4 linked regions of the Homo sapiens genome follow. The protein of the gene in region 4 interacts with the protein of the main gene of each other region in a biochemical or structural test. Each region holds a gene or a part of one and is shown on either strand. Other genes may lie near its edges. The genes, in order: UBE2R2, UBE2V2, UBXN7 and MUL1.

Region 1 (8,208 bases), on a different chromosome or scaffold from region 4:
AGCTACCGAGCCTTTAGTGAACACCAGTTGGCTGATTCTCTGCATCCCTAAAATTCTTCCTTTTCAGGTTGGCTAACTCTCACTACTCACCAGATCTGATAATACAGACTGACTTAGACTCTTGAAGGTAACTGGAGTCCCTTATTCTTCAAGTTACAAAAGTGCTCCATTTGCCACTTTATGTTATAAATATGTCCATTGAGGTGCTGAACAATAGTCTTGAGTACACGTGGTTATGGAGAAGAAAACCAAATACGTGAATATGGAATCACTTTCAGATGCCAGTGAGAGGCAGCAGATAAGACTCCAAAACAGGATGAGATGAACCCTATGCCATCTCCACTGCTGTCTTACTACAGCCACCCATAAACTGGACATGGAGCCCAGAACCCTTAGACAGTTGCTGGCCCTAGATAATTTAGCAGCAGAGAGGTACAAGAAGGAAAATAGTTGCCCATTTCCACTACATCTTGTATCTTCCCTCTTAATATTTCAGTGCCATAAATGACCTGTTAGAAAATATAACAGTTTACTACTTTAAAACCTCCCTTGTCTCACAACCAAGTGAACACAGAAACAAAAGGGATAAGCGAAAGTATTCCACATCTGCTCATTAGGTAGTGCTTTCCTGACTTCCGCTCAGAGTTCTGAGCACCACCAGGTATTCCAGACAGGTGAGGTTCCAAAAAGTGTACAAAACATCCCACAGCCCCCGAAAACACCAATAAGATCAAAATGTTGAAGGACTACCCAATGATTACATAGAACTAAGTGATAAAAAGTCTAAGAAGGTAAACAATTTCCAACCCAAATACCTTGTAGAGCTGTGTGAAGATGTTAGGTGTAACTCCACATAACTAGTTGTAGTTGGGAAGCTTCTAAACAAAGCAGCATAAAAGCAGGGAAAACAATCTTGATTTGAGTATGGGGAATGTCCCTAAATTGTGGCTCAGGTGGCCTGGGGACTCAAGTGTGAGGAAACAAAATGATGCTAGTACCCAAAGTAACAAAGGCAGTTTCAGATGGGCAGATAAGTATAAAAGGAATCCTCTGCCTCCAAAAGACTGGATTACATGAGAAGTAGGCCTATTTTAAAAGAAAAAATGTTCATAATACTTTAAGCTGAGATAAGGCAAATGACATCATTTGCGTGTAAATGCAAGAGAAGTAAAGGATAAAAAGCCTGAATTCCCATGGGTGGTGGCAATACATTATCCAGCCAAGCAGCATAAAAATGCAATGAGGAAAATCTTGTTTGGGGCTTTGTATTTGAGGAAAGGGGAAGCTTATTTTCTCAAATAGGGAGAGGGTGTAAGCATTTGATTCAACGTTCAACCAGCAAAACCAAGAATCACCAGTATTATAGCTACCACTTCCTCTAATCTAGGGTTATTACTCGTCCTGAAAATCCATGCACCAGAATCATTATTAAAGTACAACTGGGGATTTTTTTGGATGCAATTTTTTCAACAAATCATCCAAAATATTTTTTAAAAACTTTTATACACATTGTCTAATTATAATGTCAAAATAATGTGCTACAATTACTTCTGAAGACGTAGCACCCTCAAACATACTCTTGAGTAATATAGAATACATAAAACTCAGACTTTTTTTTTTTTTGAGACAGCGTTTCACTCTTGTTGCCCAGGCTGGAGTGCAGTGGCACGATCCTGGCTCACCGCAACCTCCGCCTCCCAGGTTCAAGCAATTCTCCTGCCTCAGCCTCCCGAGTAGCTGGGATTACAGGCAGGTGCCACCATGCCCAGCTAATTTTGTATTTTTAGTAGAGACAGGGTTTCTTCATGTTGGTCAGGCTAGTCTTGAACTCCCGACCTCAGGTGATCTGCCCACCTTGGCCTCCCAAAGTGCTGGGATTACAGGCGTGAGCCACTGCGCCCGGCCTACAACTCAGAATTTTTAATACTAATTTAAAATTGAGTCTATCGAGATAATTCATGTATACATAATTTGCTACGTAGGACACTTTTCCCCTCAAAAAAAGAAAGCGTATTCTCAATTACAGAATATCTCAAAAACAGCTCAAAACAATTATTTTAGTTCTTTTCATGTATTTAGAACCCAAGATAAATTATGTACTACTTGAACTGGTTACGATACAGGCATCTAGCAATTATGTCTCCCTGTAGCAAAATGAAATAAATATGAGGAACTAAGAAATGTGTTTCTCTTCTAATAGATAGCAAATGACTGCTTCACATTAGACCCAAAAAATTCCTTGAAAATAATAGCTGCAACCCAAGCCAGCCAGGTAATATCCACCATTCTAGTAGGTTTACATGCATTATTCACTTAAATTCTATCAACAACCTACTGAGGTAGGTATTATTCTTGTATAGATAAGAGATTCAGAAGGCGGGTGTAGTGTGAGCACCTGTAATCCCAACACTTTGGGAGGCTGAGGCAGGGGCATCACTTGAGCCCATGGGTTTCAGACCAGCCTGGGCAACATGGTGAGACCCCATCTTTACAAAAAACTTAAAAATTAGTCCAGGTGCTTTGGGGCACACCTATAATCTGAGCATTCTGGGAGGCCAAGTGGATTGCTTGAGCCCAGTAGTTTGAGACTGGCCTGGGAAACAAAGCAAAACCCCATCTCTCTACAAAAAAAATACAAAATCTTGAGCAGACACCGTGATGCATGCCTGTGGTCCCAGCTACCCAAGAGACTAAAGTGGAAGGATTGCTCAAGCCCGGGAGGTTGAGGCTGTGCTGAGCCGTGACCGCGCCGCTTCATTCCAGCCTGGGCGACAGAGCAAGATCCTGTCTTAAAAAAAAAAAAAAAAAAAGAAATATGAGAAAAAAACATTCAGAGGGATGATGGTTGTCAAGGTGAGGTGTAAAAACACATTTATTTGAATTTAGAAAGAAAGTAACATTTTTTGTCTTAAAAAATATATTGGTAAGATATGCTGAAATCTTTAATATATCTATTTTCTCAACTCTTTCTAAATAAATTGGATGGAACAAGGTACCCAAAGGAATGAGTAACAAACATAATCAACAGTCATTTGACACATCTTGAAGAGCTTCTATTACAAGTCAGGAAGCTTCCAATTCTTCACTTTTGATAAACCTGGAGATTCTAATCAAGTTATTAGTTTTTGTATCAGTAAAAATGTTTAACAAATGATTGAATAAACAAATAAAGGGGAAGAATAGATCAATCCATGCAGAAGAATTCAAAATAATTTATATAGATACCCTGGCTTCAAGGAGGTATAGCCACCCTCTCCTTAGTTGTGGGCTATGCATATTCCTTCCAAGGAGTACAGAATGAAAAGTTCAGGAAAGAGCAACTTTACAGTGGAGAAAAGCTAAAAATATTATTTCAGGCAGGTGATGAAAGGTATCCCATCAACAGGGATAAGCCACACTGATAGTAAATACTTCAGATATGACATAATGAAAATGGCACATTACTTCTCTGGTCTTTCTCTCCCAAACCTATAACCCTAGACTAATCATGAGAAAACACATAAGAAAAATCTCAACTGGGGGACATTGCACAAAATACCTGATCAGTACCCCCCAAAATTGTCATCAAAAACAAGAAAATTTATAATCAAGAGTTGCTTAATAGCTAGGTATGGTGGCATACACCTATAGTCACAGCTACTTGGGAGGCTGAGGTGAAAGGCTCACTTGAGCCCAGGAGGTCGAGGCTGCAGTGACCTGTGATCACACCGCTGCACACCAGTCTGGGTGACGGGAAGACACTGTCTCAAAGACAAGAGACAGAGACACAGACAGAAACAGAGAGAGAGAGAGAGACAGAGACAGAGAGAGAGAGGAGTTGCCCATGAAGACATGACTATTAAATATAATGTGATGAGCAGGGCACAGTGGCTCATGCCTATAATCCCAGCGCTTTGGGAGGCCAAGTGGGGAGGACTGCTTGAGGCCAGGAGTTTGAGACCAGCTGGGCAACTTAGTGAGACCCCATCTCTACAAAAAATTTAAATACATATATGTATACACGTACATATATAGATATATATTTATATGTATGAAATATTTTGGAGCAAAACAACGACAGGTAAAAACAAAGGAAATGTGAAAGCGTATGGACTTCAGTTACTTATAATGAATTAACATTGTTTATTAACTGCAACCAATGAATGACACTAATGTTAGGTGGTAATAAAGAACCAGAGTAGAACTAGGATAAGTTAAGAGTAGGGATTCAGGCTTGAAAATCTATTCCTAAGTGAACATAGGGAAATGAGAATCATATACATTATTGTTTAGTAAATACAGCTCTTCAAAATGACGCATACATATTTCTTAAAGCTCTAGCTAAAGACAAAGAAACTGAATATAAGAAAGATGATTTTTTACATGTTAAAAGACAATACATAATTTTATTTTACTAGGAGCAAAGACAATAAGGAGATTAAGAATAACTCCAAAACCAGATTCCTCCTTACCTCACATTCTGAGTAGGATTCCACCTTTCAGAAGGCAGTTCTCCACTCTGTGGGTCATCTACAGGCGGATGAAGAATCGAAATGCATACATCTCCATTCTACAAGACACAAACATTACATTCAGTAAATACTCAAAAAGTGATGTACAAAAAGGGACATCGGTTCTAAAGTTTCCTTTATTCCTAGAAACTGTTTCTTCATCAAAGGAGAAAACAATTCTGCTTTTTATGTTCAACATCAAAGATAAATAATAATTAAGCATTTTAAAAGTATTTATTTTGACCAATCTCCAAGGTATATTTTCTAGTGAGAAGACTTACTATTCCTATAGAACAATCCTGATGAAACAAACGATCCCTATGTTTACTTAGGAACATTAAAATATAATATTTATTTCGACCAATCTCCAAGGTATATTTTCTAGTGAGAAGACTTACTATTCCTATAGTACAATCCTGATAAAAAATTGACTGGGGCTGGGCGCGGTGTCTCACGCCTGTAATCCTAGCACTTGGGAGGCCAAGGCGGGTGGACCACCTGAGGTCAGGAGTTTGAGACCAGCATGGCGAAACCCCATCTCTACCAAAAATACAAAAATTGGCTGGGCGCGGTGGCTCACGCCTGTAATCCCAGCACTTTGGGAGACCAAGGTGGGCAGATCACAAGGTCAGGAGTTCGAGACCAGCCTGAACAACATGGTGAAACCCCGTCTCTACTAAAAATACAAAAATTAGCCGGGCGTGGTAGCACTCCCCTGTAATCCCAGCTACTCAGGAGGCTGGGGCAGGAGAATCGCTTGAACCTGGGAGGTGGGGGTTGCAGGGAGCCAAGATCGCGCCAATGCACTCCATCCTGGGCAACAGAGGGAGACTCCGTCTCAAAAAAACAAAAACAAAAGACAAAAATTAGCCGGGCGTGGTGGCACGCGCCTGTAATCCCAGCTACTCAGGAGGCTGAGGCAGGAGAATCGCTTGAACCCGGGAGGCGGAGGTTGCAGTGAGCCAAGATAGTGCTCCGGCCTGGGCAACACAATGAGACTCCATCTTAAAAAAAAAAAGACAAACATAATAAATCAAGACTCAATTGTCTTAGAAGCAGCCAAATATATATCCCTTTGTTTTCAGATATATCTGTGTACCTAGAGTACATAAAAAGGAAGAAAAAATATCTAACCTTGCTTAATATCTACTCAGATAGATGCTATGTCAATAACCATGACTTATATAAACCAAAAATATGCCTCGCAGCAAATGTTAACATCCTCAAGGTATGGTTAGAATGACTTCCCACTATGGCTATTATATTTTGCTTCATAAACTTAACACAACTTAATCCACAAGTACATTTAGGTTAATTCATACACATATGGATTGCCCACCATGTGCAATACAGAACACAATTCAATAGAAAAGATAAAGTTAGGTAAAATACAGTGACTTATCTCTTGGACTTAGCCTAACATGGAAGGTAAGATTTATTTATTTATTTAACTTCTTTCTGTCTTTAGAGATGGGAGTCTCACTATGTTACCTAGGCTGTAGTGCAGTGATTATGCATAAGACAACCATGGTGCACTGCAGCCACTAACTCCTGGCCTCAAGTGATCCTCACACCTCAGTAGTCCCATAGCTGGGACTCTAGGGTGTGCTACCACACACGACTTAAGATTTATATTTTTAAAAAACTGGAGGTATAACTATATAAAGTGCAAAAATCTTACATATACAACCCAAATTTAGACACATAGAAACTATATGAATATATATGTAACCATTATCAATATAAAATATTTTTAAAATAAAATTAATACAAAATATTATATTCTAACACACTGCCTTATGGTTAGATACCATAAGGCATGTAAAAAGTTACTACAGATAAAAGAAGAGAGAGGCCAGGCATGGTGGCTCACATCTGTAATCCCAGCACTTTGGGAGGCTGAGGCAGGCAGAGCACAAGGTCAAGAGTTTAAGACCAGCCTGGCCAGTATGATGAAACCCCATCTCTACTAAAAATACAAAAATTAACTGGGCGTGGTGGCACCTGTAATCGCAGCTACTCAGGAGGCTGAGGCAGGAGAATCCCTTGAACCCGGGAGGCAGAGGTTACAGTGAGCTGAGATCACGCCACTGCACTCCAGCCTGGGCGGCAGAGCGAGACTCCATCTCAAAACAAAAACAAAAAACAAAAAGAAGAGAGCCGGGCGTGGTGGCTCACGCCTGTAACCTCAGCACTTTGGGAAGCCAAGGCGGGCAGATCACCTGAGGTCAGGAGTTCGAGACCAGCCTGACTAACATGGAGAAAACCCATCTCTACTAAAAATACAAAATTAGCCAGGCGTGGTGGTGCATGCCTGTAATCCTAGCTACTCGAGAGGCTGAGGCAGGAGAATCACTTGAACCTGGGAGGTGGAGGTTGTGGTGAACCGAGATTGTGCCATTGCACTCCAGCTTGGGCAACAAGACCAAAACTCCATCTCAAAAAAAAAAAAAAAAAGAAAAAAGAAAAGAGAAACTTGGTATATTTGGGCAGTGAATGCGTGGGAGGTGGGGTGGAAGATAAAAGGCTTTGTTGTTGAGGAAGCTTTGAGATGAGCTTTCCTTTAATAATAACAATTTAAACAACCTATGGGAAATGTAGAAATGAGTTTTTCTGGCCAGGTGCAGTGGCTCACGCCTGTAATCCCAGCACTTTGGGAGGCCGAGGCAGGCAGATCACTTGAGGTCAGGAGTTCGAGACCAGCCTGACCAATATGATGAAACCCCATCTCTACTAAAAATACAAAAATTAGCCGGGCGTGGTGGCACGCACCTGTAATCCCAGCTACTCGGGAGGCTGAGACAGGAGAATCACTTGAACCCGGGAGGCGGAGGTTGCGGTGAGCCGAGATCACACCATTGTACTCCAGCCTGGGCAACAAAAGCGAAACTCTTGTCTCCAAAAAAAAAAAAGAGTTTTTCTGAATCCCAGCACTTTGGGAGGCCGAGGCCAGCGGATCACGAGGTCAGGAGATTGAGACCATCCTGGCTAACATGGTGAAACCCCGTCTCTACTAAAAATACAAAAAATTAGCCGGGCGTGGTGGCAGACGCCTGTAGTCCCAGCTACTCAGGAGGCTGAGGCAAGAGAATGGCGTGAACCCAGGAGGCGGAGCTTGCAGTGAGCTGAGATCGCGCCACTGCACTCCAGCCTGGGCAACAGAGCGAGACTCCGTCTCAAAAAAAAAAAAAAAAAAAAAAAAAAAAAATTAGGCCACAGAAGTATGCTACTTGGTTCAGAGCGTAATATATATTAAAAAAACAAACAACAAAAAAAAAACACAAAAAACACAACCTTCTTAGTAGTGGAATGAACTCAACAGATTTGCATTTCAAAATGACATATTAGAAAATAGGCATCCAAATTGACACAGACAATGGATTTGACAAAATCTAACACTCTTTCATGATAAAAACAATCAGAAAGCTATGAATAGATGGGAATTATCTTAACATGATAAAGGGCATTTATTAAAAACCCTCAGTTGCTAGGCACGGTGGCTCACGCCTGTAACCCCAGGACTTTGGAAGGCCAAGGCGGGCAGATCACCAGGTCAGGAGATCAAGACCATCCTGGCTAACACGGTGAAACCCCGTCTCTACTAAAAATACAAAAAAAAAAAAAAATAGCCAGTCATGACACAGCGCCGGTAGTCCCAGCTACTCAGAAGGCTGAGGCAGGAGAATCGCTTGAACCCAGGAGGCGGAGGTTGCAGTGA
Region 2 (9,045 bases), on a different chromosome or scaffold from region 4:
GCCTCAGTTTTCTCATCTGCAAAATAAGAAGACCAGATGGGATGGCCAAAAATGTTTCTGCTTAGAAGTCTCCGTCTGGCCAGGCACAGTGGCTCAAACCTGTAATCCTAACCTCAGGCCAGGGCAGGAGGGTCACTTGAGTCCAGGAGTTCAGACTACACTGGATAACATACGGAGACCCTGTCTCTACAAATAATTTAAAAATTAGCCAGGTGTGGCAATGCGTGCCTGTGTTCGCAGCTACTCGGGAGGCTGAGGTAGGAGGATCACCTGACCCCAGCAGGTCGAGGCTGCAGTGAGCCATGATCGCATGCCACTGCATTCCAACCTGGGCAACACAGCAAGACTCCGTCTCAAAAAGTCTCAGTCTAATTAAAAGTTTTTTCCTTCCAAAATTCTCTTCCAGTAGAAGGAAGGGTTAAAGGGGCTAAGGTATATGATGCACACTGAACTAAAGATCAAAACATATTTGTCAGGGTTTTTCTTTTTGGCCTCTTAAACAACTGTTATCGAGATACTTTGGCTTAAATAAAAAACACGTGTATTAGACCAAGCTCAGTGGTTTATGCCTGTAATCCCAGAACTTTGGGAGGCCGGAGCAGATGGATTACCTGAGGTTAGCAGTTTGAGACCAGCCTGGCCAACATGGTGAAACCCCATCTCTACTAGAAAAAATATATATACAATAAATTAGCTGGGCGTGGTGGTGCATGCCTGTAAACCCAGCTACTCAGAATGCTGAGGCAGGAGAATTGCTTAAACCCAGGAGGAAGAGGCTGCAGTCAGCCGAGATCGCACCATTGCACTCCAGCCTGAGCAACAAGGCGAGACTCCGTTTCAAACAAACACGTGCATTACATCGATGTAGCTCATCTAATTTTAAATTTTAAGCTGTATCATGCTGCTTTCACAAATACACAGGTACTATTTACTTCCCATGTTACCAAAAAGCAAACAAAAGTATAGCTAATAGTAAAATTAAAACTAATTAATAGGCTGGGCACTGTGGCTCACACCTGTAATCCCAGCACTTTGGGAGGCCAAGGTGGGCGGATTGCCTGGGGTCAGGAGTTTGAGACCAGTCTGGACAACATGATGAAAACCTGTCCCTACTAAAAAAAAAAAAAAAAATACAAAAAAAATATATATATACAAAAAAATTTGCTGGGCGTGGTGGCATGCACCTGTAATCCCAGCTACTCAAGAGGCTGAGGCAGAGGAATTGCTTGAACCAGGGAGGTGGAAGTTGCAGTGAGCCGAGATCATGCCCTTGCACTCCAGCCTGGGCAAAGAAGCGAGAGACTCAGTCTCAAAAAAAAAAAAAAACAAACAAACCCAGGCGCAGTGGCTCACACCTGTAATCCCAGCAATTTGGGAGGCCGGATCACGAGGTCAAGAGATCAAGACCATCCTGGCCAATATGGTGAAACCCCGTCTCTACTAAATATACAAAAAATTAGCTGGGCATGGTGGCACGCGCCTGTTGTCCCAGCTACTCAGGAGACTGAGGCAGGAGAATCGCTTGAGCCCGGGAGGCGGAGGTTGCAGTGAGCCGAGATCGCGCCACTGCACTCCAGCCTGGGTGACAGAGCAAGACTGCGTCTCAAAAAAAAAAAAAAAAAAAACTAGTAGATGGGAACGGTGGCTCACCCCTGTAATCCAGCACTTTGGGAGGCTGAGGCGGGTGGATCACCTGAGGTGAGGAGGGTGCAGTGAGCCAAGATCATGCCACTGCACTCCAGCCTGGGCAATGCAGCGAGACTCCATCTCAAAAAAAAAAAAAAAATACAGACTCCCTATGTACAATATGCTAATAATTTATCAGTAATCTTTATAATTTATATTCAACTTCCAAAACAACTAAAAGTGATTAACAAAAAGTATTTGCCATTAATATCATCTAACCTTTGGTCTTTTCAAAATATTAACATACACTCATGTATAGTGTTATGAAAAAATTGTGTTTAATAATGCAACCCACAAAAGGAAAATGAAAAGTATTAAATTAAAATGCATTATTTTATTACTAAATTTTCAAAAATCTATAAGAGGTCCTAAGCACAACTGTTATAAAGATATGGCCCCGTTAACGAGCACAGATTAGATTTCAGCAAGCACAGTAAAGTCATAACACTAAAATTCCACTTTTAAAACAATCCTTGCCTTACTAGCTAGCTGACCCAAGTATGTATACTACCCCAACACTAGAACTGCTAAAGATCTTAAAACCTATGACACCTATATGTAATAAAGATGTAAAAGACACCACTTAATTAAAATGTATGCAGAATGTATCCTGAGGTATTACTCTAAAGCAACAATTACAACATATATTCAAAGCCTTCCATTTCAGTACATATAGATTTGAAAATTCATTTTATTATGCAATGATGGCATAAACTATTAAATCACACTGCTCTATACTCTTGTTTCAACGAAGACTAGGAAAAGGCAGATCAGGCCGAGCGCGGTGGCTCACACCTGTAATTCCAGCACTCTGGGAGGCCGAAGTGGGCGGATCACCTGAGGTCAGGAGTTCGAGACCAGTCTGGCCAACATGACAAAACCCCGTCTCTACTAAAAATACAAAAATTAGCCGGGCCTGGTGGCACGCGCCTGTAATCCCAGCTACTTGGGAGGCTGAGGCAGGAGAATCACTTGAACCTGGGAGGTGGAGGTTGCAGTGAGCCGAGATCACACCACTGCATTCCAACTGGGCAACAGGGTGAGCCTCTGACTCAAAAAAAAAAAAAAAAAGAAAAGAAAAGAAAAAGGCAGATCACACGGGTTAACATTTTTAAATGTAAACTAAAGCTTAACGTTTTTAACATTTCTGAAATGGTCTAATGTCTAAAACCTCAACGTTAATACTTGTGTGCTCACAGGAAACCAAACATTGTATTCAGTAGGAAAGAGGAGTTGAACAGCTTATCTAAGAAACCACTTGTTCTTCAATTAGCTTTCATCTTGCTCTGGTCTTTTATTTTGTTTGCACTGCAGTTTTCCTCATAAATAATAAAAAGATCACACGTATTCAGTCAGGTAAGAAAGATCCTCTCGCTCTTATTTTAAGGAGCAATCGTCCTCTACTCCCCAACCCATGTCAAGGAGAGTCCAAAGGAATGGGACCCCTACTCTGATCCAGGACACCTCTTGGCCTGACCCATCTTCGGTGCCGGTTGGCCTGACCCATCTTCGGTGCCGGAGGTTGACACCCGCCCACCTTGGGCCTCCTCGCCTCCCTCCCGTAGAGCCTTCAGCCTACAACTCGGACCCGCGCCCGCCGGAACCTACGGGGGCGCCCGCGCGGGAGCCACCCCGCCCCCAGCCCGCCGGCGCGCGGCCGACGCGCGAGCACGACCCGCCAACCCGACGGCCGCCGGGGCCTCGGCGCCGGTCCCACCCGGTCCCAGGCTACGCTCTGCGGAGAGCGCGGCATTCGAGACAGCGCACTCGGGCTTCTCCCGCACGGTCAGCGCTCGGGCGCCAGCAGCAGACGGAGGGGCAGAGCCGGGTCGGAGCGGAAAATCACGCAGCCCGGCCCGGGAACCGACCTGTGGAGACCGCCATCTTCTCCTGCAGCCCGACGCAGCCGCCCGCACGCACGCACGAACCGTCGCGCGTCACTTCCGGGAGCGCGCCGCCCTGCACGCGTCACAGCGGACTCCGCCCCCGGCGGGCGCGGGGCGACCCGAGGGACAGCGCGCACGTGGGCCGAGGGGTCGCGGGGCCTCGCTGCTGTTTCCGCAATTCCCTTGTGAATCCCGCTCTCAAAATGAAACGCTAAAGAATAAGTTCATGAGGGCCGGGCGCGGTGGCTCACGTCTGTAATCCCAGCACTTTGGGAGGCCGAGGCGATCGGATCACCCGAGGTCAGGAGTTCGAAACCAGCCTGGCCAACATGGCGAAACCCCGTCTCTACTAAAAATACAAAAATTAGCCGGACGTGGTGGCGCGCGCCTGTAATCCCAGCTATTTGGGAGGCTGAGGCACGAGAATCGTTTGAACCGGGGAGGCGGAGGGGCAATGAGCCGCGATTGCGCCACTGCACTCCAGCCTGGACAACAGAGCGAGACTCCGCCTCAAAAAAATAAATAAAAATAAGTGGGCATTGACAGATTTGCGTTGATAAACGATTCAAAAGAGTTGGACAATAAATTTGAACAGCTAGGGATGCTGAGGTGGGAGGGTCACGTGAGCCCAAGAGGTGAGGCTGCAGTGAGCAGAAATCGCTGCACTCCAGCCTGGGCAACAGAGGGAGACTCCATTTCAAAAAAAAAAAAGAAAGAAAGAAAAAGGAAAGTAATACAGGCTGGGCGCCGAAGCTCACTTCTGTAATCCTAACACTTTGGGAGGCTGAGGCAGGAGGATGGCTTGAACCCAAGACTTTGAGACCAGCTTGGACAACATAGTGATACCTAGTCTCTACATAAAACTGAAAAAAAAAAAAAAAAAAGATTTTTCACATCCCTTGTAGGTTGTATTCCTAGGTATTTTTATTCTCTTTGTAGCAATTGTGAATGGGAGTTCACTCATGATTTGGCTCTCTGTTTGTCTGTTATTAGTGTATAGGAATGCTTGTGATTTTTGCACATTGATTTTGTATCCTGAGACTTTGCTGAAGTTGCTTGTCAGCTTAAGAAGATTTGGGGCTGAGACTATGGGGTTTTCTAAATATACAATCATGTCATCTGCAAACAGAGACAATTTGACTTCCTCTTTTCCTAATTGAATACCCTTTATTTCTTTCTCTTGCCTGATTGCCCTGGCCAGAACTTCCAATACTATGTTGAATAGGAGTGGTGAGAGAGGGCATCTTTGTCTTGTGCCGGCTTTCAAAGGGAATGCTTTTGGCCGGGCATGGATCCCAGCACTTTGGGAGGCGGAGGCGGGCGGATCACGAGGTCAGAAGATCAAGACCATCTTGGCTAACACAGTGAAACCCTGTCTCTACTAAAAAAAAAAAAATACAAAAAATTAGCCAGGCATGGTGGCAGGCCCCTGTAGTCCCAGCTACTCGGGAGGCTGAGGCAGGAGAATGGCGTGAACCCGGGAGTTGGAGCTTGCAGTGAACCGAGATGGCGACACTGCACTCCACCCCAGCCTAGGGGACAGAGCGAGACTCCATCTCAAAATAAAAAAAAATAAAAAATAAAAAGAATCCTTCATTCCAGTTTTCGCCCATTCAGTATGATATTGGCTGTGGGTTTGTCGTAAATAGCTCTTATTATTTTGAGATACATTCCATCAATGCCTAGTTTATTGAGAGTTTTTAGCATGAAGGGCTGTTGAATTTTGTCGAAGCCTTTTCTGCATCTATTGAGATAATCATGTGGTTTTTGTCATTGGTTCTGTTTATGTGATGGATTACATTTATTGATTTGCATATGTTGAAGCAGCCTTGCATCCCAGGGATGAAGCCGACTTGATCTTGGTGGATAAGCTTTTTTGATGTGCTGCTGGATTCGGTTTGCCAGTATTTTATTGAGTATTTTCGCATCAATGTTCATCAGGGGTATTGAGCCCACGTAGCCAAGGCAATCGTAAGCAAAAGGAACAAAGCTGGAGGCATCACACTACCTACCTGACTTCAAACTATACTGCGAGGCTACAGTAAAAAAAATTGCCTAGTACTGGTACCAAAACAGATATATAGATCAATGGAACAGAACAGAGGCCTCAGAAATAACTCCACATATCTACAACCATCTGATCTTTGACAAACCTGACAAAAACAAGCAATGGGGAAAGGATTCCTTATTTAATAAATGGTGTTGGGAAAACTGGGTAGCCATATGCAGAAAGCTGGAACTGGATCCCTTCCTTACACCTTATACAAAAATTAACTCAAGATGGATTAAAGACTTAAACGTAAGACCTAAAACCATAAAAACCCTAGAAGAAAACCTAGGCAATACCATTCAGGATGTAGGCATGGGCAAAGACTTCATGACTAAAACACCAAAAGCAATGGCAACAAAAGCCAAAATTGACAAATGGAATCTGATTAAACTAAAGAGCTTCTGCACAGCAAAAGAAACTACCATGAGAGTGAACAGGCAACCTATAGAATGGGAGAAAATTTTTGCAATCTATCCATCTGACAAAGGGCCAATATATAGAATCTACAAAGAACTTAAACAGATTTACAAGAAAAAAATAAGTCCATCAAAAAGTGGGCAAAGGATATGAACAGACACTTCTCAAATGAAGACATTTATGCAGCCAACAAACATGAAAAAAAGCTCATCATCACTGGTCATTAGGGAAATGCAAATCAAAACCACAATGAGCTACCATCTCACACCAGGTAGAATGGTGATCATTAAAAAGTCAGGAAACAACAGATGCTGGAGAGGATGTGGAGAAATAGGAATGCTTTTACACTGTTGGTGGGAGTATAAATTAGTTCAACCATTGTGGAAGACAGTGTGGCGATTCCTCAAGGATCTAGAACTAGAAATACCATTTGACCCAGCAATCCCATTACTGGGTATATACCCAAAGCATTATAAATCATTCTACTATAAAGACACATGCACATGTATATTTATTGTGGCACTGTTCACAATAGCAAAGACTTGGAACCAACCCAAATGGCCATCAGTGATAGACTGCATAAAGAAAATGTGGCAAATATACACCATGGAATACTATGCAGCCATAAATTAGGATGAGTTCATGTCCTTTGCAGGAACATGGATGATGCTGGAAACCGTCATTCTCAGCAAACTATCACAAGAACAGAAAACCAAACACCTCATGTTCTCACTTATAAGTGGGAGTTGAACAGTGAGAACACATGGACACAGGGAGGGGAACATCACACACTGGGGCCTGTCAGGGGTTGGGGGCTAGGGGAGGGATAGCATTAGGAGAAATACGTAATGTAGATGACAGGTTGATGGGTGTAGCAAACCACCATGGCACGTGTATACCTCTGTAACAAACCTGCATGTTCTGCCCCTGTTCCCCAGAATTTAAATTAAAAAAAAAAAAAAAGGAGAAAAAGTAGTTAAGAGAAAAAAAAAAAAGCTGGCATTCTGGTTCGTGCCTGTAGCCTCAACTACTCAGGAGGATGAGATGGGAGGATCACTTGAGCCAGGAGGTTAAGGCTTCAGTGAGTTATGATGGCACCACTGTAATACAGCCTGGGCAACAGAATGAGACACTGTCTTAAAAAAAAAAATGCAGGGGGCCAGGTGCGGTGGCTCACGCCTGTAATCCCAACACTTCAGGAGGCCAAGGCAGGTGGATCACAAGGTCGGGAATTCAATACCAGCCTGGCCAAAATGGTGAAACCCTCCCTCTACTAAAAATAGAAAAATTAGCCAGGTATGGTGGCGGCCACCTGTAATCCCAGCTACTTGGGAGGCTGAGGCAGAGAATTGCTTGAACCCAAGAGGCGGAGGTTGCAGTGAGCTGAGATCACACCACTGCACTCCAGCCTGGATGACAAGAGCGAGACTCTGCCTCAAAAAAAAAACAAAAAAACAAAACAAAAAAAAAAAACAGAAGAGGAAATAAAGAAGAATCATAATATACTATCCTTATCTACTCTCAAGCCACTGTAACTTGACAAGCCAAAATGAGACTGTTTTTCTCACAAAGGGACCTGACACAATAACCTAACTGAAATTTCTTACCAGTGCAGAGAAAAACTCTAATATTATCATCAAATTATTAAACTTTCCCCAAGTTTGTCTGCTGAGTTCTAGTGACCTCAGCATTATATACTTAGCAACAGCCTCTAGCTGACCTATCCTAAATATCAATATTTCTTAAACACCACATTTATTATGTCCTTACTGATTGAGAAAACCTGCATTTGCTTCCTTTTGCCTACCACCAGATTGGTAGTAAGTTTCATATTGATTGCCAGTAATGATTATCTGAAGAGCCATTTCTAAGACCATATCCAAGTTCAGCAGAAAAAAAGTCTTGTCATCCCATGTTGGTGTAACTACCATAGGTAGTTATAGCAGAAAATGGTCCATTTACCACCCTGGCCAAGGATGCCAAGCCCAAACACCACGGCCTGATTTTCACAACCTACCAGAACCCAGCCTCCACTGATACCTCCTGAATGATTTCCCATCTCTCTCCAGTGGATGCCCACACTCAGCCAAGCCGCCTCTCAGGTGCACTATTGCCACTGCCCTGGTTGTTTCTCCACCTGAGATACCACATCTCTCCTCCACCTTTCAACATCCTGTCCTCCCTTAAGGCCAAATTGAAATCCCACTTCTCTGAATCCTTTCCTGATTTATTTTTCTTGTCTTTTCATTAAACTGATCTGCTCTTTTAGTCTGTACTAAGAAGTTAGTACAGCAAAAAAACTAATATGTTCTCTCTGTAACATGAAAATCAGATCCATTTTAATCCACTTGACTTTTTAACCCTCAGAGTTGTGGGGCCTCAATAGCCAAGACATTCATGGACCCTCCCACTAGCAGGAAGCTCAGTACCTGCGATCAAAGCACACTCACACACATGCACACACAGAAAAACCCATTATGCGCCCTGGGAACATTGTTGCCTTGACATTTTCATGCTATCTCCCCTGTAATTTAAATTTGGAACTGGGCTTCTTTCTCCTGTTGAGGACAAAGTTCAACCACTTAAAGTGTTTGGTCTAAAGCTTACTCTTCTCCACTTTCATTATGTTTTCCCTGTTTACGGTGCCATCCAATTATGGAATCTGATGGTTAATTCCCAGTGCTCATCCCACTTGACCTGCCAGCAGCTTCTAGAGCAATCAACAATTCTGTTATCTGAGAACTAAATTCTCTCTTTTTTTTTTTTTTTTTTGTTTGAGACAGAGTCTTGCTCTGTCGCCCAGGCTGTAGTGCAGTGGCGCAATCTTGGCTCACTGCAACCTCCACCTCCCGAGTTCAAGCGATTCTCCTGCCTCAGCCTCCCAAGTAGCTGGGACTACAGGCATGCGCCACCATGCCCAGCTAATTTTTGTATTTTTAGCAGAGACGGGGTTTCACCATGTTGGCCAGGATGGTCTCAATCTCTTGACCTCATGATTCGCCTTCT
Region 3 (6,474 bases), on a different chromosome or scaffold from region 4:
CAGAGCGAGACTCTGTCTCAAAATTAAAAAAATAAAGAATTCTCTACTGGCTCCTTTTCTATTTTTTTTTTTTCATTCTATTAGAATCAGATCTGTTTTTCCATGTATGTTTATCGTCTGTTTCCAACTAGAAAGTAAGTTCCTTGAGGGCAGAGGCTGTATCTGTTTTGCTCCCCATCACATACATCCCTATTATTTGGCACATGAGGCTGGAGCATGGGGATGAGAAATGGTTCCACAAGAAAAGGGGGGGCACAAACCCATCACTGTAGAACTGTGAGCTAAGCAGCAGTCCCTTTTTTTTTTTTTTTTTTTTTTTTTTTGAGATGGAGTCACTCTGTCACCCAGGCTGGATGCTATCTCGGCTCACTGCACCCTCCACTTCCCAGGTTCAAGCAAGTCTCCTGCCTCAGCCTCCCGAGTAGATGGGATTATAGGCACTGCCACCACGCCCGGCTTTTTTCTTTTTTTTTTTTTTGAGACAGAGTTTCACTCTTGTCGCCCAGGCTGCAGTGCAGTGGCACGATCTCGGCTCACTGCAACCTCTGCCTCCTGGGTTCAAGCGATTCTCCTGTCTCAGCCTCCCAAGTAGCTGGGATTACAGGCGGCCGCCACCACACCCAGCTAATGTTTGTATTTTTAGTAGAGACGGGGTTTCACCATGTTGGCCAGGCTGGTCTCGAACTCCTGACCTCAGGTGATCCGCCCATCTCAGCCTCCCAAAGGGCTGGGATTACATGCATGAGCCACTGCATCCAGCAGCAATAACAATTTCTGTCATACCATATAATCGTATCTCCTTTTTGCCCATTAATTTAGTAATTATCTTTCCTTCAATTAAGCTAAGTCCTTAATTAACCATTAGTAATTACTGCTGGTCTGAAAGAACAGACACTGAATATTCGCCCAAGTATGTCAAACACAGAATCATACTTACCTAACAAGCCTAGCTTACCCAATGTTTCTGTAACAACTGGACTAATATTTACAGAGTGTTTACCATGAATGTTTGACATACCACAAAGAGCAGAAAAAAGGCTAGCAAACGTTACACATAACAACGGGACTACAAAGTAACCTTTGTCAATCAATAGTAACTGACCTAAATGAGAACGTGAGGGGGCAAGCTTTTGGAATCTCAATTGTATTACTGAAAGTAATATCCAGAGTCTTATCTTGTAAAAACAACAACACAAAAAAAACTAATACTGAAAAGTTTTTGTTTTTATTTCCAAGATCAAATATTACAACAGGACATTTACATGTATTTATAAAAAAATGCAGCAGTTGAATGTATAGATCAGAGGTTTCCTTGAGTTTGGTCCCTCTCTCAGCACAGTGAGCTGATGTCTTCAAAAGACTTATCGTCCCACTCCCTTCCCTCCCCCACCCCATTGTCCCCCCACCCTCCCCGTTTCAAGTTGCAGTATTAATATAAAGCAACTGGGTACAACACAGCAAGAGTATTCACAATTTGGTACAGACCAAACCAGAGGATCCCCAACTGACAGCAAGATCCTCCTTCTGGAAATTATTACCTATAGACTAGGTAGATCTATAGGTAGATCACACCCAGTTATCTAAGATTTCCCTGGTTTTAGAGCAAGTGGAAGTTCCATTGAGTCTTAGCCAGTAGTTACAACTCTGCGTTACCTAATGGCATGTTTTTCTCCTCTTACAAGTTTAATTTTCTACCGCCTCCATGTGTCTTCAAATTTAAGGCTTTCCCAAGCACCTTTATTATGACTTACTAGATATACAGGAGGGTCTCTAATGTGTCTTGAACAAAAAAATTTAGTGGATGGTCCAGCTGCCCCTTGCTCAACAATCCCAAAGACTTCTTCCCACCACTGAGAAGAGCTGCAGAAATCAACGGTATCTCCTAGCACCATTGGAGAAAAGGCCCAGAAAACAGAATTCGATGTGCATTTTAGGGAGCACTTGCCAGAAACATTACAACAGGAGCACTGTCTCTGTTATCTTCTTGGATTCAATCACAAATTTAGAGTACAGATGAAATTTAGAGCCTGTCCTGCATTAAGAATGCAAATCTCAGTAAGACCACCCCCACACACACTTTGTCCAGAATAAGTTGAGCCACAAACATCCCAGGGAATCTCTAAATACTGTTAGGAACTGCTTTAGAAAACACTTTAAAGCAAATACCCCAAGTTGACTTCACTCAAGCCCCCAACCCACCCTCATCATCCCTATCCCCCTAGAAATTTCATTCCTTGATTAACTTCTCTGAGTAAGATGTAAAGTGAGGTTTGGAAAATGACATGAAACATGAAACATGTTTAAAAACACAATCAATGAAGACATGCCAGAACTGGACATCCCAGGTGACTTCAAATGCATTGTTCAAGCCGAACTCATACAAAGCATGCACAGAGCCTGCACAGACACTGCTGAGAGTTTCCAGGGAACAATCAATACCTACTCGAAAAAGGACTTTCCTGAAGGGCAAACAAAACAAAACAAAACAAAACAAAACAAACAAAACAAAAAGTAACACTGGATGTTTAGAATTTGTTAACAACAACAACAACAAAAAACCATTCTGGAAAAAAAGATTATCAGAGGAGTGAAGAAAACCGTGTCTAACAGATTCATGCCAAAGCTTGGATGGAAGCCCCTCAAAGTCTAAGTATCGTGTTAGCATCAACTGGTACTCATTTCTCTATATCTAAGACTAGAAGATTCTCTCACAGCTTTACTGTTTCCTGGCAAGTGTTTTCAACAGCCTTTCCAGCTGAAGGGACGAACCCAGGAAAGTAACAAGGCCCAAGACCCCACATGGGTCAGATAAGCAGCCCCTACTAGAAGCTTGCTACTCGTTAACTGAAAAGTGGAGGCCACGCACTACTTTCACTCTCTCTAGCAGGTGAAAGGGGATTTTCTGATGGCAACAGTCACTCCGTGTAAGGTTTAACTTACAGGGCAATAAGTTATCAAAAAGTTATTGTTAAAAGCATATGATTAGTGTCATAAACATATTTATATTTGGAATTACACCATTTGATATCTCCATTAAGAATGCAAAGCTTTGAGAAAAGCATACTGTAAAATCATGTTGCTGCAAACAGCAAGGCATCCAGCTGAGTGTAAGCAGTCTAATGTCATCAAACTGAAATGGACCCTCGTGACGGGCACTATGGAACCAGCTACCTAGATAGAGAGAAAAAAGGAGAATGGCAGGGAACGGTTCCAGATCAAGAATCTCTCCCTTATCAGTTAAGAGTTCCATACTGAGTCTATGAAAAAAGCAAATTAAAAAGATTTTAAGAAAGGGGGAATTCAATTCCAGGTCAGAATTTATCTAATGATTTGATATGTTTCCCATTTATCATGTCTAAAAAATGAATGACTCATGCTAACCCAGTTAGATTAATAACTTCTTTTGATGAGAAAAAATATTACTTAGGTTTAGTCCAGCTTAGCTTGACTATTCTTCCCATTTGAAAACCCAAATGACCTTTAGAAGGGATATAAAATACCCAGAGTATTGTGATCTCTAGAGAGGAAATACAATTAAACAATAAAAACTTGCTGTTTGTTGCCAAAGAATTAAGTACAATAATGCGACTTCTCATATTTATAGATTAATCTGTGATTGCTCTTGGGAAAAATACTATCATTGGTATTTGCCATCTCTAATCCTAGAAATAAATCTGGTTATCTTTTGAAAATACTTTCTCATTACAGGAATGCTAAATTATGTTTATTAAAGTAGTTCAAATTGGATTGCCCAACTTTATTTTGAAATCAATAGCAAAGAAAGGCCTGTGCCAAAAATCATCATGTTTATGAGAATATCTGCAATTTTAAGCAACACAACAGCAACTGGTAGGCCACAAAGAGGGTGGGGTATCACAGAGCTAGCCATTCTCTATATGAAACCAGAGAATTCTCCTTAACTAGGGAGAAAATGAGCTATAAAAGTAAGTTTGCCTCAAAAATGTCCTTCAATTTTATAAAAAATGAAGATTGTTACATATTAAGACTTTGAAATGGAATTTCTTAAACATAGCCAATTACACTAAAAATCATAACTATTTTCAGAGAATGAATGTTAAAAATAAATGGTGGAGAAGTAAAATGGAAAGCAGGATTAAAAGATTTCTAATTAAGGGTCTGTCACTTCACAGGACAACTAGCAAGGCCATTATAATCTCTATTTTTAAAAAGACATCAAGAAATTCTTGATTCTATACTGTCTCTCTAGCAGGACTGACACACAGGTGAGTCAAAAACCATAACCATCACTGAAATACCAAATCTCTATGTAACAGGAGAAACCGATATATTGGTATGGTATTCTCTGTTGGGTTATCTGCAGTTCTAAAGAACATTCTTGCCACTATTCTAAAATGTGTACAGTGCAACACCATGTTTCACGGCAAGACAATAACTGAAAAGCTAAGCCAGGCAATCCAGTGAAGTTGAATGTCCATAGTACACAGCTGTCTTTAGCCTATTCATCAAGGCTGGTATTACCGGAAAACTGCCATGTTCACCAGAAGAGCTGTCTCTTCCTATGCTCATTACATTTTAGTTTTACAAAGACTACTAATTCATCAGCCTGCACCCCATGATTTACTACTGCGTAGTTACATGATGGTCAAAAAAGGCAGAGAGACGGTAAGAATGACATAATAAAGATACATTCTGTGGAATAAAAAACATTTTTAAGTCAGCCTAATTGTATCTTTAAAAAGCTGTTTCTGCCAAAACCAGGTGTGAATCTTATACAAATCAATTTCCCAACAGGCCAGTAAAGTACTTTAAGTACACAAGTAAAAATAAAATTTAGTGCCAGCGTTAGTGTCATATTTGGTTCTCATTTACATTTTAGTCATACTCAACACTGATTAGGCACACAGCATTAAGTTTTAAAAAATAATGAATTGTTTACAAGATTATTATTACTAGACCTATAACTACTATACTCTCCTCTTTGGAGATTTCAGTCATCGCAGTAAGATTAAGAGCAAGTTGTTGGTCAAATGATACCTGAACACAGAATAAAAAAAAGAGAGAAAAAAAAAGTAAAGAAACTGATTAACCAGCACACTTTTAATTAGCCTAGGGATAATACGCAATCACGGGGAGAGACTGGAAGCATGAAATTTTGGAAAAGGACTTCAGAGATAATCTAATTTGTTGTTCTAGAAAAGGCTGAGAACTATTAATCTAGTCCAATTATCTCATTTTTCAGACGAGAAACCAGAGATTAAGAAGAAAGAGAAGTGTGAAGGTAACAACTAGCAGAGCTGTTACCCAAAGGGCTCTCACACCTCCAGTGCCCTTTCTGCATATAACATATACTATACTATGCATTGGATTTGTACCTGGGTAGAGAAATTAAATCTTTCCTTCATTTTTCGGTTGCTAGTGGCTCCCTCTGGTATTTTCCCTAAGTGTGCAAGTAAGATTCCTGCGAGCTAGGAATCTTTACTCCGGGGGATCAATAGTGAGATCCCCGCAAGCTAGGAATCTTTACTCCAGGGATCAATAATCCTTTCCTACTTGGGTACTGGTTATGCCTTAGTGGCAGAACTTCATGCCCCAAATCTAGAAGTTACAAAAGGTGGAGCTAAAGAAAAAGGTGAGTCAAAAGAAAACGTGAGCTACAGTGCTTGCCACTTCAGTCTTGTTTAAGACTTTGCTAACTAAAACATATTCTTCCCTTTTTCTAAGTTTGAACTAATAGGTAAACATTTACATGCTCTCCAATTATTTCATGTGTAGTGTGTCTCTCTAACTGGATAAAACAGGCAGGAATCATATCTTATTTATTATTTTTTGAGACAGAGTCTCGCTCCATTGCCCAGGATGGAGTGCAGTGGTGTGATCTCGGCTCACTGCAACCTCCGCCTCCCAGGTTCAAGAGATTCTTGTGCCTCAGCCTCCCCATTAGCTGGGATTACAGACAGCCACCATGCCTGGCTAATTTTTGTATTTTTCAGTAGAGATGGGGTTTCACCATGTTGGCCAGGCTGATCTCGAACTCCCAACCTCAGGTGATCCACCCACCTCGGCCTCCCAAAATATTGGGATTACAGGCATGAGCCACCACACCTGGCCAGGAATTAGATCTCAGATTTCAAAATACTTCCAACTTCTATAAAGAACTCAATAGCTAATTGTTGACTTGTAAGTCAAGGAAGTAGAATTATATACAAGATTTAAAAACATACACACAGAGGGTTCAATAATCTGGTATGGATGGGACACAGAAAACAGAATTGTAGATCGGGCGCAGTGGCTCATGCCTGTAATCCCAGCACTTTAGGAGGCCGAGGTGGGCGGAACACGAGATCAAGAGATCGAGACCATCCTGGCCAACATGGTGAAACCCTGTCTCTACTAAAAATGCAAAAATTAGCCGGGCGTGGTGGCGCTCACCTATTAAAAAAGGTAATTGTATCTTTTCTGAAAAATGTTTAAAAAAAGAAAAAATTGTTTTTT
Region 4 (6,204 bases):
TTTAACCCACATAAAAATCCTGTGAAATTGCATTTTCCCTGTCCTTTATGGTTTTGGAACCTGAGACTCAGATAAATGAAGTTGTCCCAAGTCACAGTGGATGCATTGGCGCTAGATTAAACTCCAGATCTTTCTGATCATATTCTCCCTCTTCCCCCTTTAAAATTCGAATTGGCCATCCTGTGGTGGATACTTTACTAGCTGTCTCACTTTGGGCAAATCACTTCACCTCTCTGAGCCTGTTTCCTTGTCTGTAATTGGTGATAATAATGTCTACCGTAAAGGGATGGTGTGGGCATTAAGTGGTTTATGCATTTAAAGTGCCTAGCATATTGCCTGGTACATAGTATATTTAAATGCTTACTTATTCATTAATTTATTAATCAAATAATGTATTAAATGCTTGCTGTGTGTCAGGCACAGTTCTCCGCACTAGGGGGATAGCAGTGAACAGGACAAACAGTGTCCAAGCCCTCCTAGAGTTTAACATTCTAGTGGAGGGAGACAGATAATGAGTAAATTGTTAGTTGTTATTGCTGTCATTTTGGTATCTTCACAGTGTAAGTGGCTAAGAAATTTTGATTGACCTTGCTCCTGTCACTTACTGTGTAGCAGTAGCTTAAACTCAGAGTGACCTTCATATACATCTTGTATCACATCACCTCTTTAGAGGTTACTGAATCTGGCATCCTTAAGAGTTGTTTTTGGGAATACCCTGAAAGCAGAGATGGTCCTTTATTCGTCCTGAATCTCTGACACCCAGCACAGTGCCTGGCACAAAGATGCTCAGGAAATGATTGTTGATTTTATTCCTTTTCTCTTATTTTTGAAACAGCAGTAACAGGATTGGTTTCCCAAGTGCAGTGGGTTGGACGCTCTGAGTTGGAAGGCAGAGGAGAACTAGGGATTGTTAGAGGAAGACAGCAGCAGAAAGAACCGTGCTCACTTAATTATGAGCATGAAAAAGGCAAAAAGTAGAACAGACTGGGTGCGGTGGCTCACACCCGTAATCCCAGCACTTTGGGAGGCCGAGGCAGGAGGATCGCTTGAGCTCAGGAGCTCAACACCAGCCTGGGCAACATTGGGAGACCCTGTCTCTGCAAAATAAAAAAATTAGACAGGTGTGGTGGTGCATGCCTATGGCCTCAGCAACTTGGGGGCCTGAGGTGGGAGGATCACTTGAGCCTGGGAGGTTGAGGCTGCAGTGAGCCATGATTGCACTACTGCACTCCAGTCTGGGTATAACAGTGAGACCCCATCTCAAAAAAAAAAAAAAATGTAGAATGGCATTTGGCACCAGTTAACAGTCTTCCTGTTGAAGCAAAGGCAACTCCCCCTGCTTTGTTTTTTTAATAACATACAATGCAGAGCATTGGTTCGTAAAGATGTGGTAATATTAATAATAACACCTACCAGTTCTCAAACCACTGCCATGTGCTAGGTGATAGGTTAGGTACTTTATACCTGAACCCTTTGGATCATAGCTCTGTGTTGTCAGGAAGAGATTGAATGATGTTCAGTCTGTGGTATGTAAATTGACTAGTACCTTTTATATTTTCACTAAAAAGTCTTAACATGAAAAGGAGTATAGGTTTTGGTTAACTGGAACAAGAATGTATGTGGCACCCCCATTCTGCAGTGATGGAAGAGGCAGAGGCATGGCTCCATTCCTGTTGATGTACACAGCTTTGAAATCTGATTCTCAGTAGTCACCTTCCTGTCCAATTTCCATATTCTCTTGACACGAAAAAAATAGAATCTTTTTCTTTTTTTTGCCTGTAAGTTTGATTGAGCATGTCAGTGTTCAATGGCCAATTAATTTAATTTTTTTTTTTTATTTAGGGAGCTAAAAAAGTTCATTTGGGTGAAGATTTAAAGAGTATTCTTTCAGAAGCTCCAGGAAAATGCGTGCCTTATGCTGTTATAGAAGGTATGTTTGCTTATTGGTCAATGGAAAACAACGTCTTTTTCCCAAAAGATTGATAAAGATCATCTTGGCTAATATGAAGAGCCTTTTGTGGTGTTGGGTCCATGGTCCAGAACATACTTTGGGGTCAGAAAGACATGGGTTATTGCTTTGTGATCGCTAAGATTACCAAACCTCCCTGAACCACTGTTGCCTGATCTCGAAAATAATACTTACCTTTATGGGGTTGTTATAAGACAAATTATGTGATCCATGCAAAGTGCTTAGGAGAGTGCTTCTAAAATGTGACTTATGGTGATCAGAATGTCATTGTTTTGATGAATTAGCAAAAGTCAACTGAAAACACTTAATTTTTAACATTTTTTAAATTAAAAAAAAAATTTTTTTTTGAGGCCAGGTGTGGTAGCTCATGCCTGTAATCCCAGCACTTTGGGAGGCTGAGATGGGCTGATCACTTGAGCTCAGGAGTTTGAGACCAGCCTGGTCGACATGATGAAACCCCGTCTCTACTAAAAATACAAAAATTAGCTGGATGTGGTGGCACATACCCGTAATCCCAGCTACTCGGGGGGCTGAGGCAGGAGAATTGCTTGAACCCGGGAGGCGGAGGTTGCAGTGAGCCAAGATTGCACCACTGTACTCCAGCCTGGGTAACAGAGTGAGACTCCGTCTCAAATAGAGTCTTGGCTCTGTCACCCAGGTAGCTGTAGTATGGTGGTGTGATCATAGCTCACTGCAGCCTCAAACTCCTGAGCTCAAGTGATTCTCCTGCCTCAGCCTCCCAAGTATCTGGGACTACAGGCACATGCCACCACACCCTGCTAACTTTTTAATTTTTTGTAAAGATGGAATCTCACTGTGTTAACCAGGCTGGTCTCAAACTCGTGGCCCCAAGTGATCCTTCTGACTTGGCTTCCCAAAGTGTTGGGATTATAGGTGTGACCTACTGTGCCAGACCAGAAAACACATTTTAAATTATCTGAAAGGAGAGGGCAGAAAACTTCTTCAGAAATAATAGAATTTGTGTCCACTTAGGAGCTGTGCGGTCTGTTAAAGAAACGCTTAACAGCCAGTTTGTGGAAAACTGCAAGGGGGTAATTCAGCGGCTGACACTTCAGGAGCACAAGATGGTGTGGAATCGAACCACCCACCTTTGGTATGTATCACTTCTCCACTGGCCAAAACCCTTGCAGTTGGTCTATTCAAATGCTGGGGTCCTGGGTGCTGTTGCCGTGACTTCAGCTTCTCCTGAGACAGGTTGAAGCCCAGTCTCTTAATGCAGGTCATATTCTTGTGTGTAGCCTGTGGGCCTCCTATGTCGGAATCACCGAGGCATCTTGTTGAAATGCAGATTTCTGAGCTCCCTTCAGTCCCTGAAGTGGATAAGTCAGTCCCTGGTGACTTATCCAACCAGAATTTCCAGGATCAGGGACCTGGAATCTGTTGTTAGGCACACTGAAGTTTGAGAACCACTGAATCAGTGATTTCAGTATTTCCTAAAATGCTTTTGTGCCATCATATGAAATATCAGTTTTCCAACTGGTCCTAGTGAGTTTTGTTTTAGATGTTTGTTTTACAGTGGAAAGGGAAATGATAGTCTGTGGCGGTTATTTGTTGCCCACTGATATCGCCCCAGGACCTACAAATGGAGCCTCCTTGTTAGGAGGCAACTGGAGATAGTGATCTTACTGTCTTCTTCCAGTTACTTCAGACCATATGCTGTCCTCCACATTTAGTTGATCTCCAGTTCTGCCTGGGTGTTTGCTGTTTGCTACCCTGTATCTTTAGTTCTCTTATTCTTCTAGGAATGATTGCTCAAAGATCATTCATCAGAGGACCAACACAGTGCCCTTTGACCTGGTGCCCCACGAGGATGGCGTGGATGTGGCTGTGCGAGTGCTGAAGCCCCTGGACTCAGTGGATCTGGGTCTAGAGACTGTGTATGAGAAGTTCCACCCCTCGATTCAGTCCTTCACCGATGTCATCGGCCACTACATCAGCGGTGAGCGGCCCAAAGGCATCCAAGAGACCGAGGAGATGCTGAAGGTGGGGGCCACCCTCACAGGGGTTGGCGAACTGGTCCTGGACAACAACTCTGTCCGCCTGCAGCCGCCCAAACAAGGCATGCAGTACTATCTAAGCAGCCAGGACTTCGACAGCCTGCTGCAGAGGCAGGAGTCGAGCGTCAGGCTCTGGAAGGTGCTGGCGCTGGTTTTTGGCTTTGCCACATGTGCCACCCTCTTCTTCATTCTCCGGAAGCAGTATCTGCAGCGGCAGGAGCGCCTGCGCCTCAAGCAGATGCAGGAGGAGTTCCAGGAGCATGAGGCCCAGCTGCTGAGCCGAGCCAAGCCTGAGGACAGGGAGAGTCTGAAGAGCGCCTGTGTAGTGTGTCTGAGCAGCTTCAAGTCCTGCGTCTTTCTGGAGTGTGGGCACGTTTGTTCCTGCACCGAGTGCTACCGCGCCTTGCCAGAGCCCAAGAAGTGCCCTATCTGCAGACAGGCGATCACCCGGGTGATACCCCTGTACAACAGCTAATAGTTTGGAAGCCGCACAGCTTGACCTGGAAGCACCCCTGCCCCCTTTTCAGGGATTTTTATCTCGAGGCCTTTGGAGGAGCAGTGGTGGGGGTAGCTGTCACCTCCAGGTATGATTGAGGGAGGAATTGGGTAGAAACTCTCCAGACCCATGCCTCCAATGGCAGGATGCTGCCTTTCCCACCTGAGAGGGGACCCTGTCCATGTGCAGCCTCATCAGAGCCTCACCCTGGGAGGATGCCGTGGCGTCTCCTCCCAGGAGCCAGATCAGTGCGAGTGTGACTGAAAATGCCTCATCACTTAAGCACCAAAGCCAGTGATCAGCAGCTCTTCTGTTCCTGTGTCTTCTGTTTTTTTCTGGTGAATCGTTGCTTGCTGTGGACTTGGTGGAGGACTCAGAGGGGAGGAAAGGCTGGGCCCCGAGTACAACGGATGCCTTGGGTGCTGCCTCCGAAGAGACTCTGCCGCAGCTTTTCTTCTTTTTCCTCATGCCCCGGGAAACAGTCTTTCTTCAGAATTGTCAGGCTGGGCAGGTCAACTTGTGTTCCTTTCCCCTCACCTGCTTGCCTCCTTAACGCCTGCACGTGTGTGTAGAGGACAAAAGAAAGTGAAGTCAGCACATCCGCTTCTGCCCAGATGGTCGGGGCCCCGGGCAACAGATTGAAGAGAGATCATGTGAAGGGCAGTTGGTCAGGCAGGCCTCCTGGTTTCGCCACTGGCCCTGATTTGAACTCCTGCCACTTGGGAGAGCTCGGGGTGGTCCCTGGTTTTCCCTCCTGGAGAATGAGGCGCAGAGGCCTCGCCTCCTGAAGGACGCAGTGTGGATGCCACTGGCCTAGTGTCCTGGCCTCACAGCTTCCTTGCAAGGCTGTCACAAGGAAAAGCAGCCGGCTGGCACCCTGAGCATATGCCCTCTTGGGGCTCCCTCATCCAGCCCGTCGCAGCTTTGACATCTTGGTGTACTCATGTCGCTTCTCCTTGTGTTACCCCCTCCCAGTATTACCATTTGCCCCTCACCTGCCCTTGGTGAGCCTTTTAGTGCAAGACAGATGGGGCTGTTTTCCCCCACCTCTGAGTAGTTGGAGGTCACATACACAGCTCTTTTTTTATTGCCCTTTTCTGCCTCTGAATGTTCATCTCTCGTCCTCCTTTGTGCAGGCGAGGAAGGGGTGCCCTCAGGGGCCGACACTAGTATGATGCAGTGTCCAGTGTGAACAGCAGAAATTAAACATGTTGCAACCAAGTGCTAGCCTGTTGCTTTGTTAACAGGAGTTAAATGGCTAAGCCTAAGTGTCCCCAGGATGGGATTGAATCCCTGCCACAATGGAGTGAAAGGTGGGGGAGTTTGAGGCCTCTGTGTTCTTTTCCTCGGCTATAGTGGTTTGGGGCTCCCCCAGATGGGGTGATGCAGAGGCCGGCCGGGATGCCTGCCCCCTGGGGAGGAATCTGGACAGCCCACCCGTGGGTCATATCTGGCCTTGCTGACCATCTTTGAAGTCTGTCCCGACAGCCTACAAATCAGGGCAGTGAGATTTCACCTGCTGGGAGAATGGGATGGGGATGGGGTGCTGGGGGACAGCAGAGAGGAAATGAGCATTTAGCAATACTGTGTATGAGGTACTGTGCCGTGTGCTGTTTCAAACTCATTTCAGAGTGAGTTCATCCTCACAAAACCCCTGCAGGCCGAGTCCCGGTGTCTGTGCTGTACAGGTGAGGAAGTAGGCCCAGAGGGTACATTCACTG

What was found.
Region 1: the proteins of MUL1 (region 4) and UBE2R2 form a complex in vitro, tested with the Homo sapiens proteins (one study listed by BioGRID).
Region 2: the proteins of MUL1 (region 4) and UBE2V2 form a complex in vitro, tested with the Homo sapiens proteins (one study listed by BioGRID).
Region 3: of the proteins of MUL1 (region 4) and UBXN7, one has a biochemical effect on the other in vitro, tested with the Homo sapiens proteins (one study listed by BioGRID).

Annotation. Positions count from the first base shown.
Region 1 is NC_000009.12:33,896,515-33,904,722, reverse strand, and holds part of UBE2R2 (ubiquitin-conjugating enzyme E2 R2), read right to left. Parts: intron 4,550-8,208; coding exon 4,452-4,549; intron 1-4,451. UniProt on the Homo sapiens protein: E2 ubiquitin-conjugating enzyme that accepts ubiquitin from an E1 ubiquitin-activating protein, and catalyzes its covalent attachment to other proteins by an E3 ubiquitin-protein ligase complex.
Region 2 is NC_000008.11:48,002,980-48,012,024, reverse strand, and holds the start of UBE2V2 (ubiquitin-conjugating enzyme E2 variant 2), read right to left. Parts: upstream 3,595-9,045; 5' UTR 3,571-3,594; coding exon 3,555-3,570; intron 1-3,554. UniProt on the Homo sapiens protein: Has no ubiquitin ligase activity on its own. The UBE2V2/UBE2N heterodimer catalyzes the synthesis of non-canonical poly-ubiquitin chains that are linked through 'Lys-63'. This type of poly-ubiquitination does not lead to protein degradation by the proteasome.
Region 3 is NC_000003.12:196,346,456-196,352,929, forward strand, and holds the end of UBXN7 (UBX domain-containing protein 7), read right to left. Parts: 3' UTR 1,207-6,474; downstream 1-1,206. UniProt on the Homo sapiens protein: Ubiquitin-binding adapter that links a subset of NEDD8-associated cullin ring ligases (CRLs) to the segregase VCP/p97, to regulate turnover of their ubiquitination substrates.
Region 4 is NC_000001.11:20,498,948-20,505,151, reverse strand, and holds the end of MUL1 (mitochondrial ubiquitin ligase activator of NFKB 1), read left to right. Parts: intron 1-1,842; coding exon 1,843-1,930; intron 1,931-2,962; coding exon 2,963-3,083; intron 3,084-3,732; coding exon 3,733-4,462; 3' UTR 4,463-5,704; downstream 5,705-6,204. UniProt on the Homo sapiens protein: Exhibits weak E3 ubiquitin-protein ligase activity. E3 ubiquitin ligases accept ubiquitin from an E2 ubiquitin-conjugating enzyme in the form of a thioester and then directly transfer the ubiquitin to targeted substrates.